Linked DNA regions of Homo sapiens. The protein of the gene in region 2 interacts with the protein of the main gene of each other region in a biochemical or structural test. Each region holds a gene or a part of one and is shown on either strand. Other genes may lie near its edges.

Evidence for each region. Proteins that work in one complex are often made in the same cells at the same time.
Region 1: the proteins of DDX3X (region 2) and APBB1 form a complex in vitro, tested with the Homo sapiens proteins (one study listed by BioGRID).
Region 3: the proteins of DDX3X (region 2) and ANXA1 interact in a test that uses a peptide from one of them, tested with the Homo sapiens proteins (one large-scale study listed by BioGRID).
Region 4: the proteins of DDX3X (region 2) and EIF4G1 form a complex in vitro, tested with the Homo sapiens proteins (one study listed by IntAct).

Annotation. Positions count from the first base shown.
Region 1 is NC_000011.10:6,409,095-6,412,594, reverse strand, and holds part of APBB1 (amyloid beta precursor protein binding family B member 1), read left to right. Parts: intron 1-1,233; 5' UTR 1,234-1,247; coding exon 1,248-1,968; intron 1,969-3,500. UniProt on the Homo sapiens protein: Transcription coregulator that can have both coactivator and corepressor functions. Adapter protein that forms a transcriptionally active complex with the gamma-secretase-derived amyloid precursor protein (APP) intracellular domain.
Region 2 is NC_000023.11:41,340,302-41,344,161, forward strand, and holds part of DDX3X (ATP-dependent RNA helicase DDX3X), read left to right. Parts: intron 1-1,182; coding exon 1,183-1,315; intron 1,316-2,193; coding exon 2,194-2,352; intron 2,353-2,435; coding exon 2,436-2,535; intron 2,536-2,914; coding exon 2,915-3,050; intron 3,051-3,435; coding exon 3,436-3,521; intron 3,522-3,728; coding exon 3,729-3,827; intron 3,828-3,860. UniProt on the Homo sapiens protein: Multifunctional ATP-dependent RNA helicase. The ATPase activity can be stimulated by various ribo-and deoxynucleic acids indicative for a relaxed substrate specificity.
Region 3 is NC_000009.12:73,158,365-73,161,864, forward strand, and holds part of ANXA1 (annexin A1), read left to right. Parts: intron 1-157; coding exon of another isoform or gene 158-171; coding exon 172-237; intron 238-330; coding exon 331-439; intron 440-964; coding exon 965-1,059; intron 1,060-1,898; coding exon 1,899-2,012; intron 2,013-2,438; coding exon 2,439-2,529; intron 2,530-3,500. UniProt on the Homo sapiens protein: Plays important roles in the innate immune response as effector of glucocorticoid-mediated responses and regulator of the inflammatory process. Has anti-inflammatory activity.
Region 4 is NC_000003.12:184,328,106-184,331,605, forward strand, and holds part of EIF4G1 (eukaryotic translation initiation factor 4 gamma 1), read left to right. Parts: intron 1-525; coding exon 526-651; intron 652-803; coding exon 804-885; intron 886-3,160; coding exon 3,161-3,259; intron 3,260-3,366; coding exon 3,367-3,500.

The sequences.
Region 1 (3,500 bases), on a different chromosome or scaffold from region 2:
AATTGGCTTGTCAGATGGTGACAGGCGCTGGGGAAGAGTTTAGGGATTGCTGAGGAGGGGCGGAGGTAGCCTGTGGTTTTAAAATGGGTGTTCAGGGAAGGCTTCACTGAGGCTGTGACATTTGGTCAAAGATCTGAAAGGCTGGGCCGGACGCAGTGGCTCATGCCTGTAATCCCAGCACTTTGGGAGGCCGAAGTGGGCGGATCACGAGGTCAGGAGTTTGAGATCAGCCTGACCAACATGGTGAAGCCCCGTCTCTACTAAAAATACAAAAATTACCTGGGCGTGGTGGTGGGCACCTGTAATCACAGCTACTCAGGAGGCTGAGGCAGGAGAATCACTTGAACCCGAGAGGCAGAGGTTGCAGTGAGCCAAGATTGTGCCATTGCACTCCAGCCTGGGCAACAAGAGCAAGATTCTGTCTCAAAAACAAACAAACAGACAAACAACCCCCAAAAAACAAAGATCTGAAAGGCTGAGGGGCCCAGGGGAAAGGCTCCCATAGTGATCCAGGACAGGGCATTATGAGGGCTGGCAGAGGGACCAGTGCCCAAGGGGAGCTACTTCATGGAAATTGTCACCAAGATGTAGCTTCATCTGGCCAGAGAAGCCATGAATTGCAGCCGAGCGCCCTCCCTCTGTGACCTGCCTTCCAGTGCCATGCCCTGTAGGGCTGGTTCTGCAGCTTATTTGCTCCTGTCCTCACAGTCCCTAGTATGGGGTGGGCTTGGGGGCTGGTTGAGCTGAGTGATTTATGGGAATAGGAACACAGCCGGAGGAGCTTACAGTGATGGGGCTTGGGATGGAAGTGCGGCCGGAGAGGGGCAGTCAGTGATCAGTGTCCAAAACACACGAGCCGGTCCCACTCTAGTGGTGTTCCTGGCACAGTAAGCCCCGGGTGGATGAGCTGGGGGGTGGGGAGGCACAGAGAGCCATTGTGTGGAGGCCTTGCTGGTGGGACCGAGGGCAGGCGCCAGCTGTGCCATCCCAGAAAGCTCAGGGCAGGGGATATAGGGATGGGGTGGGCCTCAGACCTGGGCCTGGACTGTGATGGGGATGATAGTGCTGGGACAGAAGTTGAACCCAGTCATTCTCATAGGATAGAGAGCCATGGGTGCTAGCCTGCTTAGTGCAGGGAGATGAGGAGGCACAGGGCATAGCCCTGGGGCAGAAGCAGTGATGCTGCTGTTCTGGACCAGAGGCTCAACAGCATCTCCCCTCCGCACCCCACAGGAGCTGCCAAGGCCATGTCTGTTCCATCATCACTGAGCCAGTCGGCCATTAATGCCAACAGCCACGGAGGCCCCGCACTGAGCCTACCCCTGCCTCTGCACGCTGCCCACAACCAGCTGCTCAACGCCAAGCTGCAGGCCACAGCTGTGGGACCCAAGGACCTGCGCAGCGCCATGGGGGAGGGTGGTGGGCCTGAGCCAGGCCCTGCCAATGCCAAGTGGCTAAAAGAGGGCCAGAACCAGCTCCGGCGGGCCGCCACGGCCCACCGTGACCAGAATCGCAATGTGACCTTGACCTTGGCGGAGGAGGCCAGCCAGGAGCCTGAGATGGCACCCTTGGGCCCCAAAGGCCTGATACACCTGTACTCTGAGCTGGAGCTCTCAGCTCACAACGCAGCCAACCGAGGCCTACGAGGACCTGGCCTGATCATCAGCACTCAAGAGCAGGGGCCAGATGAGGGAGAGGAGAAGGCGGCCGGGGAGGCCGAGGAGGAGGAGGAGGATGATGATGATGAAGAGGAGGAGGAGGACTTATCTTCTCCCCCAGGGCTGCCTGAGCCCCTGGAGAGTGTGGAGGCCCCTCCCAGGCCCCAAGCCCTTACAGATGGCCCCCGGGAACACAGCAAGAGTGCCAGCCTCCTGTTTGGCATGCGGAACAGTGCAGCCAGTGATGAGGACTCAAGCTGGGCTACCTTATCCCAGGGCAGCCCCTCCTATGGCTCCCCAGAGGACACAGGTACCTTGTGGAGCTTGACATGGGCATGTGGGAGGGTGTGAGGGCAGAGGTTAGGACTCTCATACAGAGGCCAGTGCCAGCCTGATGTGAGCTGAGAGCCCATACCCTGAGGCCACAGCAGGCCATGTCCAGGCTTTTTCATTCAGAGAGTGCTTGGACATTCTGGTAGATCTGACCATCATGCATGCCCGGATGGATGGATCTATTCATTATGCATGCCACCATGGTTGATAAGTGGACTAGTTTACTGGGCACTGACTAGGTAACTGGCCCTCTGCTCAGCATTTTCAGGCTTTATCCTTACAATAAAGCTGTGAGGTAAATATTATGATGATTCCCATATTACAGATAACAAAAAAGAGATCCAGAGAGGTTTAGTAGCTTTCTCGAGACCACAGACAGGCTGAGATTACAATAGAGCTGAAATCTAAACCAGGTCTCAGTCCAGGCCTGAGCTCTTGGCCCCGTGTTATGCTGCCGCCAATGCATAGAGCACAATGCACTCAGGTGCACTTGGGACAGTCGGCCCCGTTTTTTTTTTTTTTGAGACAGAGTCTCACTCTGTCGCCAGTCTGCCCCGTTTTAACAGGTCACGCCTGTTGGGAGCAGCCAGCAGCTCCCCACAGAGGTCTGTTTGGAAAGACTGGGAATGTTGTGTGCTTATAATCCACATGCTCCAGCACCATTGCAAGGATACAGTTTTGTCAGGAGTAGGATATTGACTAAAAGTTAGAAAAGAAAACCCTTTGGGTAGGGGGAGGAGAATAGATACTAGGACTCCAGGGCTTAATCATTAAATATGTCCATTTAAATTAAGCTGAGTCTCCACATTTTCTAATGTCGTGTAGCGAATACAGGAAAAGCTGAGGAACAAAGAGTGGAGATAATGGGCTATAGTTACAACCAAAACCCTGGAGTTTTGTAGATGGAGGTCTAAGAAAGATTAGGAAAGACCCCTATCCTTACCAGGTGGCGGACACAATACCCATACCCCAAACTGTGCAATCTTTGTGGAGAACATGCAGTTCAGATGAGCCTAGGGCTGCACACCATCCCCTTTCGAAAAACTCATTCTGGACATTTTCAAACATACACAAAAATAGAGAGAAAAGAATAATGAGCCTGATTTACCCACGAGCCAGTTTTACCAATTATCAATACATAACTAATCTTGCTACCTGCATGCTCTCTTCCGTTCCTAGGCCCAGCGTAGGTTATTCTGAAGCAAATACTTTTATCTATAAATGTTTACAGCTGGGTGCAGTGGCTCACACCTGTAATCCCAGCATTTTAGAAGGCTAAAATGGGTAGATTGCTTGAGCCCAAGAGTTCAAGACCAGTCTGAGCAACATGGCAAAACCTCTCCTCTATAAAAAAGACAAAAAAATTAGCCGGGAGTGGAGGCATCAGCCACTGTGGTCTCAGCTACTCAGGTGACTGACCTGAGAGGATCATCCGAACCCAAGAAAGTCGAGACTACAGTGAGCCATGATTGAGCCACTGCATTCCAGCCTGGATGGCAGAGAGAGACC
Region 2 (3,860 bases):
CCTCGTGTATATGGCAGTATCATAGAGGTTTTAGAGCTGGTAGAGATCTGGCAATCTAACTTAACTCTTTCTTGCTAGCAAAGGCTGTTGGTCACCTGACTGGCCTAACGGTAGGAGGTAGAAGGCAGAAGGAAAGTAACTGAATTGAGAAGCTGTTTCTGTTTAATAAGGTGTTGCTGAAGCTAGTTAAACCCTCTACCTGTCTTTAAACCCTCTACCTGTCTTTGGGTTAATTTACATGTTTGTCATCCCCTTACCTGGATATTTATAGCTGTACCCAGGAACCTTGTCTATACTGAGAATATATAGTGATGAGGGTTTTTCTTTTTCCCAGGTATTCCTGATTGTCATCAAGCTTATAGTAGATGAACCACTAAAATAATACTACAATTTGACATTAGTGTTCTTGTACTTTATACTATTGAAACTGAAAAATACTGTATTAAACCAAGTAATCTGACAGTCTATGAATGTTCTAAATGAATACCACCTCCAAGAAACATGGAAACAATGGTAACTGTTTTTCCTAGTAAACTCATTCACACCTATAAAATGAATGGAAATTAAATTGTTATGGTCACACAACGTCATAATGCGTTACAGGCAAAGCTGTTGACCACTTAGAGGTAGTATTCATTGAGAAACATTCTTAGACTGTCAGATTGCTTGATTTAGTGTAAAGTAATTTTTTTTTTTTTGAGACAAGGGTGTTTCACTCTTGTTTCCCGTGCTGGAGTGCAGTGGCGCAATCTTGGCTCACTGCAACCTCAGCCTCCCGGGTTCAAGTGATTCTCCTGCCTCAGCCTCCTGAGTAGCTGGGATTACAGACGTGGGCCACCACGCCTGGCTAATATTGTATATGTAGTAGAGACGGGGTTTCTCCATGTTGGTCAGGCTAGTCTCGAACTCCTGACCTCAGGTGACCTGCCCGCCTTGGCCTCCCAAAGTGCTGGGATTACAGGCGTGAGCCACCATGCCTGGCCAGTGGACAGTATTTTCTAGTGGGGAGAATTAAAGAAAAACTTTGTCCGGGTGTAAACCAGCTTTAAATCTTGGTTCTCTTACAGTGCCATGGTAGGGATAGTCAGTGGAGGCTTTCAAATTCAGAAAGATTGATAATACCTTAACATGGTTCCTATTTCTAATTAATAATAAAATGTATTTGTGCTTTTTTAATCAAAGGTTTCTACGATAAAGACAGTTCAGGGTGGAGTTCTAGCAAAGATAAGGATGCGTATAGCAGTTTTGGATCTCGTAGTGATTCAAGAGGGAAGTCTAGCTTCTTCAGTGATCGTGGAAGTGGATCAAGGGGAAGGTAAGTGATTTCTTAATCACCTTACGTGTATGTATAATAACAGTTTAATAAGTCGTTATCCTGACCACCTGTTTGGATGTTAAGCATTATGTCTGTTTGGTCATTGTATTTTCTTAGCCGTAAGAGGCTTTTACTAAATTGAACCTGTTACTTAGAAATTAGATGAAAATAGGAATATGCTCATTGGCATAATGAAATGAGTTATTCTATTTCTCGAGTTTTATATGTTCTACTTAAAAGAGTAAGTTCATCTAGTGAATGGCCTAATTTGGTTGGGATTTTTGTGGACTCTATAACAATTTCTAAACACCTTGTATTTTTGATTACACAAGTGTGGTGAACTGACCCCACGTGCCTAATAGCTGTGGTTAGTCCTGTGTCCTGATTTTTCGCAAACAGGCCTAAAACTCTTAAAAACATCTTAGTTCAGGTAAGGATTATTTTCTACCTTTTATCCAAAGTCTGTCACACAGGTGAATTGTCCTTTAAGTGACATCCTAGTATAACTAGGACGATTGATATTTGGTGTGCTATTTTCTTGTTTTCCCTACCATTAAATATATTTGGATGAGCACTTTAAATGAAGGTTGTGAGCTGTGTGCCGATTTCAAATAAAATCCTTATTCTTAATTTTGGCATCTGTGAGGCCTTTTAGGCTATACAACTTTATAGAAATGTAAAGATTACTGATTTTAGAAAACGAGGTTATGTAAATGATGCTGGTTAGAGAGCCTTATTTGTCAAGTAACTCAGAATTGGATTGTTGACATCCTTATGGTTAGCCATAACTTAAGTCTCCAGATACAGTTCTAGAGTAGGGATAAGAATCTGATAATGGTTAAATGATATGATTCTGATTAATTGCTTGTGCTGTTCAGGTTTGATGATCGTGGACGGAGTGATTACGATGGCATTGGCAGCCGTGGTGACAGAAGTGGCTTTGGCAAATTTGAACGTGGTGGAAACAGTCGCTGGTGTGACAAATCAGATGAAGATGATTGGTCAAAACCACTCCCACCAAGTGAACGCTTGGAACAGTAAGTTTTTGAAGTGTATGTTACTTGTGATGAAGCCTTACTAGCTAGTATAACAAATGAACTTATCCATTTTTTGATTTGAGGGAACTCTTTTCTGGAGGCAACACTGGGATTAATTTTGAGAAATACGATGACATTCCAGTTGAGGCAACAGGCAACAACTGTCCTCCACATATTGAAAGTGTGAGTATTTTTGCTTGACTTTTTAAGACACAGAGAGGTTAAATGTTTTCATGTTACATTAGAATGTGAGATGGGCTTCATAAAGTCATGTAGACCAGAGGCTTCATAGATTTGTGGAAAAGGAGAAGTTGAGTTCAGTGTCACCATTATGAATAATTTATTACCTAAAATAGAAAATGGGTCAAACATAGGAACAACCCAAAGTCTTCTCCAATGTGCAGTAAGCCTGGGGGTTGGTTTTTCTCAAAGTATAATGTGATAATTTTACTTAAACTATAAACTGAGTTACCAATCAGCTGTTGGTTGGTTGTTTCCATTATTAGTATAAAACAGAAATAGCTCTAGATAGCATTCCTAACCCCATTGAATTTCTTAACAGTTCAGTGATGTTGAGATGGGAGAAATTATCATGGGAAACATTGAGCTTACTCGTTATACTCGCCCAACTCCAGTGCAAAAGCATGCTATTCCTATTATCAAAGAGAAAAGAGACTTGATGGCTTGTGCCCAAACAGGTAAGCTCAACTCATAAGAGTAAAACATCATATTTCTTCTGTAAAGGACTAGACAATAAAATATTTTATTTTTTATGGGTCATGCAGTTTTGCAGCTGCTCTGCGCTGCTATTGGACTGTGAAAGAAGCCATAGATGATACATAAATTATTGGTTACGGCTGTATTCCGTAAGAGCTTTATTTATAAAAATAACAGGCTTTATTTACAAAATAGTCTCAGTTTGCTGACTCCTCTTAGAGGTGGAGCAGAGAAGCCACTTTTTGGAAAACTTAAGCATAAACTAAAAGTACTAATTATTAGTAATAGGGTAGTTAAAAAACACTGTCATCTACCAATGTCTGTTTAAAAGTAATGAGCAGGATTTGTTTGTTTGTTTTTGAACAGGGTCTGGAAAAACTGCAGCATTTCTGTTGCCCATCTTGAGTCAGATTTATTCAGATGGTCCAGGCGAGGCTTTGAGGGCCATGAAGGTAGATGTTTCTTTATAAAATGGGAAATTGTAGAACTTTGTAGGTGGCCATTGAGAGGGCTTTCTAAATGATGCTAAGACTTAAGTAGAATGAAAACCAGTTTTCAAGTGTAATCTGTAATCTATAAATTACAAAAGGGAATTATGTTGTGATGAACTTTTCAAACAGGGTAGGTAGAGTTAACTTAAAAATTAACTTATTTCTTAGGAAAATGGAAGGTATGGGCGCCGCAAACAATACCCAATCTCCTTGGTATTAGCACCAACGAGAGAGTTGGCAGTACAGATCTACGAGGAAGCCAGAAAAGTAAGTATGAGTTCCAGTGATTATTAGCTTTTT
Region 3 (3,500 bases), on a different chromosome or scaffold from region 2:
GTCTTACATTTTGTTATGCTCCTAAGTGTAATTGATCCTGGAAAGTAAGCGCAAGGCTACTCTCTAATGCTAACTCTTATGTATGTAAGAGGTGAGGAAGGAGAGGTTGTGTGTGGTGCATTTGTTTTGTAAAAGCATCTAACTGTTTTCTTTCCAGACACTTTTTCAAAAATGGCAATGGTATCAGAATTCCTCAAGCAGGCCTGGTTTATTGAAAATGAAGAGCAGGAATATGTTGTAAGTAGAGTGATAATAAAATTATGATTACAATATTGAAATAAAAACGAATATAAGTAAATGGCCATTAATTTATTTCTCTCTCATTCTTAGCAAACTGTGAAGTCATCCAAAGGTGGTCCCGGATCAGCGGTGAGCCCCTATCCTACCTTCAATCCATCCTCGGATGTCGCTGCCTTGCATAAGGCCATAATGGTTAAAGGTAACGTGTTTCCTCAAAACAGTTCCCTCCTGGACATTTCAGAATGGCTATTTGAATGACTGTCAAAAAACAGACATGTGCAATGGAAAGAATCTGTTTCATTTTGAAGATAAAAACATTTCTTTGCCAAACGAAGATGTAATTATTTACTTAACACTGAGGAAATTGTGTTCACATCAGTGGAATCTCTATTGTTACAGCAGATATTACTGGCTCATTTCTAGCAGAAATTCCATGCTGAAATTAAAAGCTCTGTTCACATATAGAGTTGCAACTAGTATCAAACACTGCAACACTGAGGGCCAGGAAAAGTTAATTGTCTCTTCCTTTCTCACTCGAATGAAATGTCATTCTCCCAAGTGCTTCCTTGATATGTAGTATAGCATCGATTTTTTAGGCTGATATATAATTTATATTTCTTAATTTGTTAAGAAGTTCTTTTGGAGCATCTCAGTAATGAATTATTTTATGTCAATTGATGATGAAGAAAATTGGTGTTAAAGGCTGTTGGCCCTTTATTTCCAGGTGTGGATGAAGCAACCATCATTGACATTCTAACTAAGCGAAACAATGCACAGCGTCAACAGATCAAAGCAGCATATCTCCAGGAAACAGGAAAGGTAAGTTAGAGTGGTAAATTTAGATATTTAATTTCAGCATAGTTATACTTAACCATGGATTCGGAAGCACAGTTACCTAGTTCTTTAAGGTTCTAACCACTGTTTTCTCATTACATCTATGATTGGGATTGCAGTGTTTATCCACTTTGTTGCAATTTAATCAATTTTATCAAATTTCCTATTTTTATACATTAGTCATCTTGGTGTATATTGTTTGCAGATGTGGTGCTCTGGGGACAAATTTTTAATTTGAACGTAAACATCGAGATTGCTGCTGTCAATAAAGAATATGGTCTGATTGAAATGTACTAATATTTAAACTGAACTGTTTAATGCCTAAATTTTATATATAATTCTACTTTAAAAATAAGCCTTATGTCTTTTATACCAAATATGAGTAGTTTTCTAAAGCAATGAAATTAGAAAACTATATAATTTCAGTATCTGATTATACTGCTTGTTATTTGAGAAGTACAAACCTCAAAGATTGGAAACATGAATATATTATTTTAAAAGTAATTTTACTTCTGTTTTCTGTTAGCACACAGTCCTCTGTGTTTTGATCTTTGTGATTTCTCCCCTGTGTATAAGATTACTAACCCTATGCTTTAAGAAGTTATTGATGAATTCAGTAAATTTTATTTTAATCCCTCTAGATCTGGAAGGGTAAGATAATGTTTCAAAATATTTGGTACACTTTGTATGTGAAGGGAAGAAGCTCTAAAAGATGGTTGGGTTTAGGGATGAGTTGTACGATGACCTAAAGTCAGGTAATATCACATTTTTTAACCTAGCATGTTACTTATTGGAAGTCCTGATTCTAATCTTTTTTTTTGTAGCCCCTGGATGAAACACTGAAGAAAGCCCTTACAGGTCACCTTGAGGAGGTTGTTTTAGCTCTGCTAAAAACTCCAGCGCAATTTGATGCTGATGAACTTCGTGCTGCCATGAAGGTAAATCGCCCAATTTGAGCAAACTCCTTTCCTCAAGAGGATGTATTGGGCAAGTCACTTATGCTTATGTTATTTTCAAAATCTAGTATAGTACCTGTCAATCAGTGGGAGTTTGAAGAATAAATAAATTAATACCTCAATGAAGGAATTAATATATAAATGAAAACAGAAATGTTGGCACTAACACCTTCCATGTCATGTCACTATATGAGTCATATATTTGCATTTTTATTTTTACCCAAAATATTGATGATAAACTTGTTTTGTTTTAGGGCAATGTAATAGAGCTTATTGTAATTATTAAATGTTGTGGGTGAAATTTACTAAATGACAGAGTCAAACAAATTTTGGAACACCAAAAACTCATTGATCCTCTTGCATGAAGATTTTTTTCTACATTTATCCTTTTCTTCTCTTCAAATTTAGGGCCTTGGAACTGATGAAGATACTCTAATTGAGATTTTGGCATCAAGAACTAACAAAGAAATCAGAGACATTAACAGGGTCTACAGAGAGGGTAAGTTGTAATGTCCAACAGTCCAAACGCCTTATTTGAAAAGGAAATCTAATATACTTTCTTAAAATTGACTGTCTATGGTAATTATGGCAGCTTTGGAATCTCCACATATCAAAATGTTTCTTTATTGTTTGGCACATGTCTATTAAATGCTGTTACCAGGCAACGCTTGAGTTGCTAGGTTGCTGACAAGGGAGATGGTGTCCCAATCCGCATCAAGCTTGCGTTTTAATAGAAAATGTTCCTCTAGGATAAATGGCCACATACGATTATAATGGAAACCTCAATTCAGAGCATTGAATTTTTAAAAATTTCTGAAAAACACTTTTCTATTATTCTGGAATGTATTTTATAAAAATGTCCCAAGGTCATTTTTTTTGAAAAGAATATATAATAACAAAAAAATCTCCTAACAAAATGTTTTTCATTTGTCCTTGAAAAAGTAAAGAATTAGGTGCTTATAATTCTCTGTTGGAAACCTTAACTTTATCGTTATGAACATAAGAGACTCACTTTATCTCTAGTTAAATTCACAGAATAAAAGACTAGTCTTAGCTTATTTTATCTCTCCAGTGAAGCATCTCATTTAAATGATGTGCTCAACACTGAAAAGAGGGTAATTGCAAGTCTCTTACCATTTTCCTACTCTCATTTCCCTGAGCTGCTGGCTTTTTGGCTTTCCCAATGCAATATATGGCATATAGAAGATCTTTCTGCTTGATTCTCATACCAAGCATGGAGAATACAATAGCTTTTGCATATCATTTTCAGAGGAATTTAATAAAAGAATAAAAATAAGGAAGCTTTTAAACCTCATTTTCTGCAATTCTTATTTAATTACCAATGTTTATGTTAGATCCATGTGTCAGTGGTAATAATGATGATTATTTTTGTTTGATAAAACATAGTTTATAAAAATAAGTGTTTATATATTTTTCATATGGCCAAGATATAGGCCAGTGATAGTTTAT
Region 4 (3,500 bases), on a different chromosome or scaffold from region 2:
GGGTGTGGTGGCTTATGCCTGTAATCCCTGCACTTTGGGAGGCCAAGGTGGGTTGGATTCCTTAGAGGATCACGTGAGGTTGGGAGTTCTAGACCAGCCTGGCCAACATGGTGAAACCCTGTCTCTACTAATAATACAAAAATTAGCCAGGCGTGGTGGCACAGTAATCCCAGCTACTCGGAGGCTGAGGCAGGAGAACTGCTTGAACCCGGGAGGTGGAGGTTGCAGTGAGCCGAGATCGTGCCATTGCACTCCAGCCTGGGTGACAAAAGCAAAACTGTCTCAAAAAAAAAACCAAAAAACAGTATGGGTTCCTTGACCATCCTGGTCAGCATAACTTTAGGGGGTTAAGCGGGGTGAAAACCATCTAAGGACACAGAGGTGGCCTTAGCTTGAAATAATTGTCCCCATGTCTAGAAAATGTTCCTGGGGGTTCCATAGTTGATGCCCTAGCCATGCCACGTTGCCCCAGAAGGAGAGTGGGGACCTGGCCTAGAATGTCTTGACTTTGAATTCCCTTGGCAGGTTGTATGAAATCTTGGAATTGGCTGAGGACATGGAAATTGACATCCCCCACGTGTGGCTCTACCTAGCGGAACTGGTAACACCCATTCTGCAGGAAGGTGGGGTGCCCATGGGGGAGCTGTTCAGGTAAGTCCCCCTGGGTGGAATTCAGGGGAGGTAAAGACCAGAGGAAAGGTGGTAGGGAAATGGCTGGGTTGGATACCCTGGTTTGGAGGGAGATGGAGTAGTGGTGAGAGAACTGTGGAGGCTGTCAGCATTAGGTTTTTCTCTTCTTGTAGGGAGATTACAAAGCCTCTGAGACCGTTGGGCAAAGCTGCTTCCCTGTTGCTGGAGATCCTGGGCCTCCTGTGCAAAAGCATGGTGAGTGAGGGCCAGGAGTCCAGAGATGCCTCCCACGGTGTGGTTTTGGCTGTTTGCTGTGGCCCTGAAGCTTCATGGTCCATTGGTGGAGTGGAGTGATGGTGATGACAGGATTGTGTTGGTACCTGGGAGAGGAAATACTGAGGTGGGCCATCTCCCGCACACCAGTTCCTATCATGAGTTCTGGCCAAGACTGGAGGAGAATGGCAGTCTAAGACCCTAGGCCTGTGATTGATGCATTTATTTATTCATTCATTGAACTAGGGTTTTGTTGATGATCATTTATCATATACTAAGCACTAGGGACACAGCAATGAATAAAACACAAGAAACAAGTTGGTAGAGAAAAAGGAAGAAATGGGCCGGGCGCAGTGGCTCACGCCTGTAATCCCAGCACTTTGAGAGGCCGACGTGGGTGGATCACGAGGTCAGGAGTTCAAGACCAGCTTGGCCAATATGGTGAAACCCCATCTCTACTAAAAACACAAAAATTAGCCGTGTTGTGGCAGGTGCCTGTAATTCCACCTACTCAGGAGGCTGAGGCAGGAGAATCACTTGACCCGGGAGGCGGAGGTAGCAGTGAGCCGAGATTGTGCCACTGCACTCCAGCCTGGGAAACAGAGCAAGACTCTGTCTCCAAAAAAGAAAAAAGAAATGACAGCTTGATAAAAACAACAGTAAAGCGTGACATAAAACAGTTGAAATAGAGTGGAGTATCTTAAGTACTGTGGGGTTGCAAAGGAATATTTGACAATATTTGTGACAGGAGGCTTTCAGGGTGCTGAAGCGGCTTTGTGAAAGTTAATTGGTAACTAGCGAATATAAAGGTAAAGAGATGGGGAAAGGTAAGTTGAATGTGGTACTTAGTGGAAGTGAGAAGTTGGGGTGAGTGTGTGCAGTTTCAAGGGTTCAGCCATCTGGAACCTGGAGGAATCACACTTGGGATTTAAAGGAATTGTTATGTCAACATCATTTAATTCTTTTAAATAGACGTGTACCAGGACAAGTTGTTTTTTAACAACAAATAAGCATATTGAACTATTTGTGTATTTCATCAACTCCAAGGTGCCATAGATTATAAGACATTCTTTATGCGCTGTTAAGAAAGAAAAGACTGGGCCGGGCGTGGTAATCCCAGCACTTTGGGAGGCAGAGGTGGGTGGATCACGTGAGGTCAGGAGTTGGAAACCAGCCTGGCCAACATGATGAAACCCTGTATCTACTAAAAATACAAAAAAATTAGCTGGACATGGTGGTGCGCACCTGTAGTCCCAGCTACTTGGGAGGCTGAGGCAGGAGAATTGCTTGAACCCAGGAGGGGGAGGTTGCAGTAAGCCAAGATTGTGCCACTGCACTCCAGCCTGGGCGACAGAGCAAGACTCTGTCTCAAAATAAAAAAAGATATATATCGGCTGTAAGACAACTTTTAGTTAAAATGTGAAAAAATGGGCATGTTTTAAAATCTGTGAACTGCAATAATCTTGCTAAGAGCCAGTGCCATTAGTCTGTTATAAAGAAAAGAGTGATGTCTTCATAGTCTATTGCCCCTTACAGAAAATGCACTCAGACTGCTGGTTTTATGAGGATTTTTTATTTGTGTTAGGGATGGGGTATATTTGTGTCTTAAGATTTTCTGGGTTTAGGAAACAAGCATACTTGTTAGAAGTTGTCCCTTCCTAGAGGCCCTTACATCATTTTTCCTACCCTAGTGTCATAGCACTTTGGTGGACAAGTTCTCTTTTATTTTATTTTATTATTATTATTTTTTTGAGACAGAGTCTCGCTGTGTCGCCCAGGCTGGAGTGCAGTGGCGTGATCTCAGCTCATTGCAACCCTCGCCTTGGGTTCAAGCGATTCTCCTGCCTCAGCCTCCCGAGTAGCTGGGATTACAGGCACCCACCACCACGCCTGGCTAATTTTTGTATTTTCTGTAGAGACGGGGTTTCACCATGTTGGTCAGGCTGGTCTCCGACTCCTGACCTCAGGTGATCCGCCCACCTCGACCTTTCAGAGTGCTAGGATTACAGGCGTGAGCCACCGCCCGCTCCTGGGACGAGTTCTTATTTATTTGGGTGGTTATTTGACTGACATCTGTGCCCTGCACCAGACCGTAGGAATGGAAGGGCTTTGCCTATTAGTATTTCTATAGCATCCTTAATGCCTAGCAAGTACCTAGTAGGCTTTCAGTAAATATTTGTTGGATTAATGTGGTAGAGCTGTTGGGTCCTTGGAGAGAGAGAGCTTTGGTAAGCTGGGTTGGTCTTGTGTTTTCCAGGGTCCTAAAAAGGTGGGGACGCTGTGGCGAGAAGCCGGGCTTAGCTGGAAGGAATTTCTACCTGAAGGCCAGGACATTGGTGCATTCGTCGCTGAACAGGTTTGGGGATGGAGTTGGGTTAATTCTAGCATTTGAGGCTGGCCAGTCTTCTTTCTTGTCTCCTGTTGGCAACCTTACCTCTTAACTGCGGGCCTTTTCCATTGCAGAAGGTGGAGTATACCCTGGGAGAGGAGTCGGAAGCCCCTGGCCAGAGGGCACTCCCCTCCGAGGAGCTGAACAGGCAGCTGGAGAAGCTGCTGAAGGAGGGCAGCAGTAACCAGCGGGTGTTCGACTGGATAGA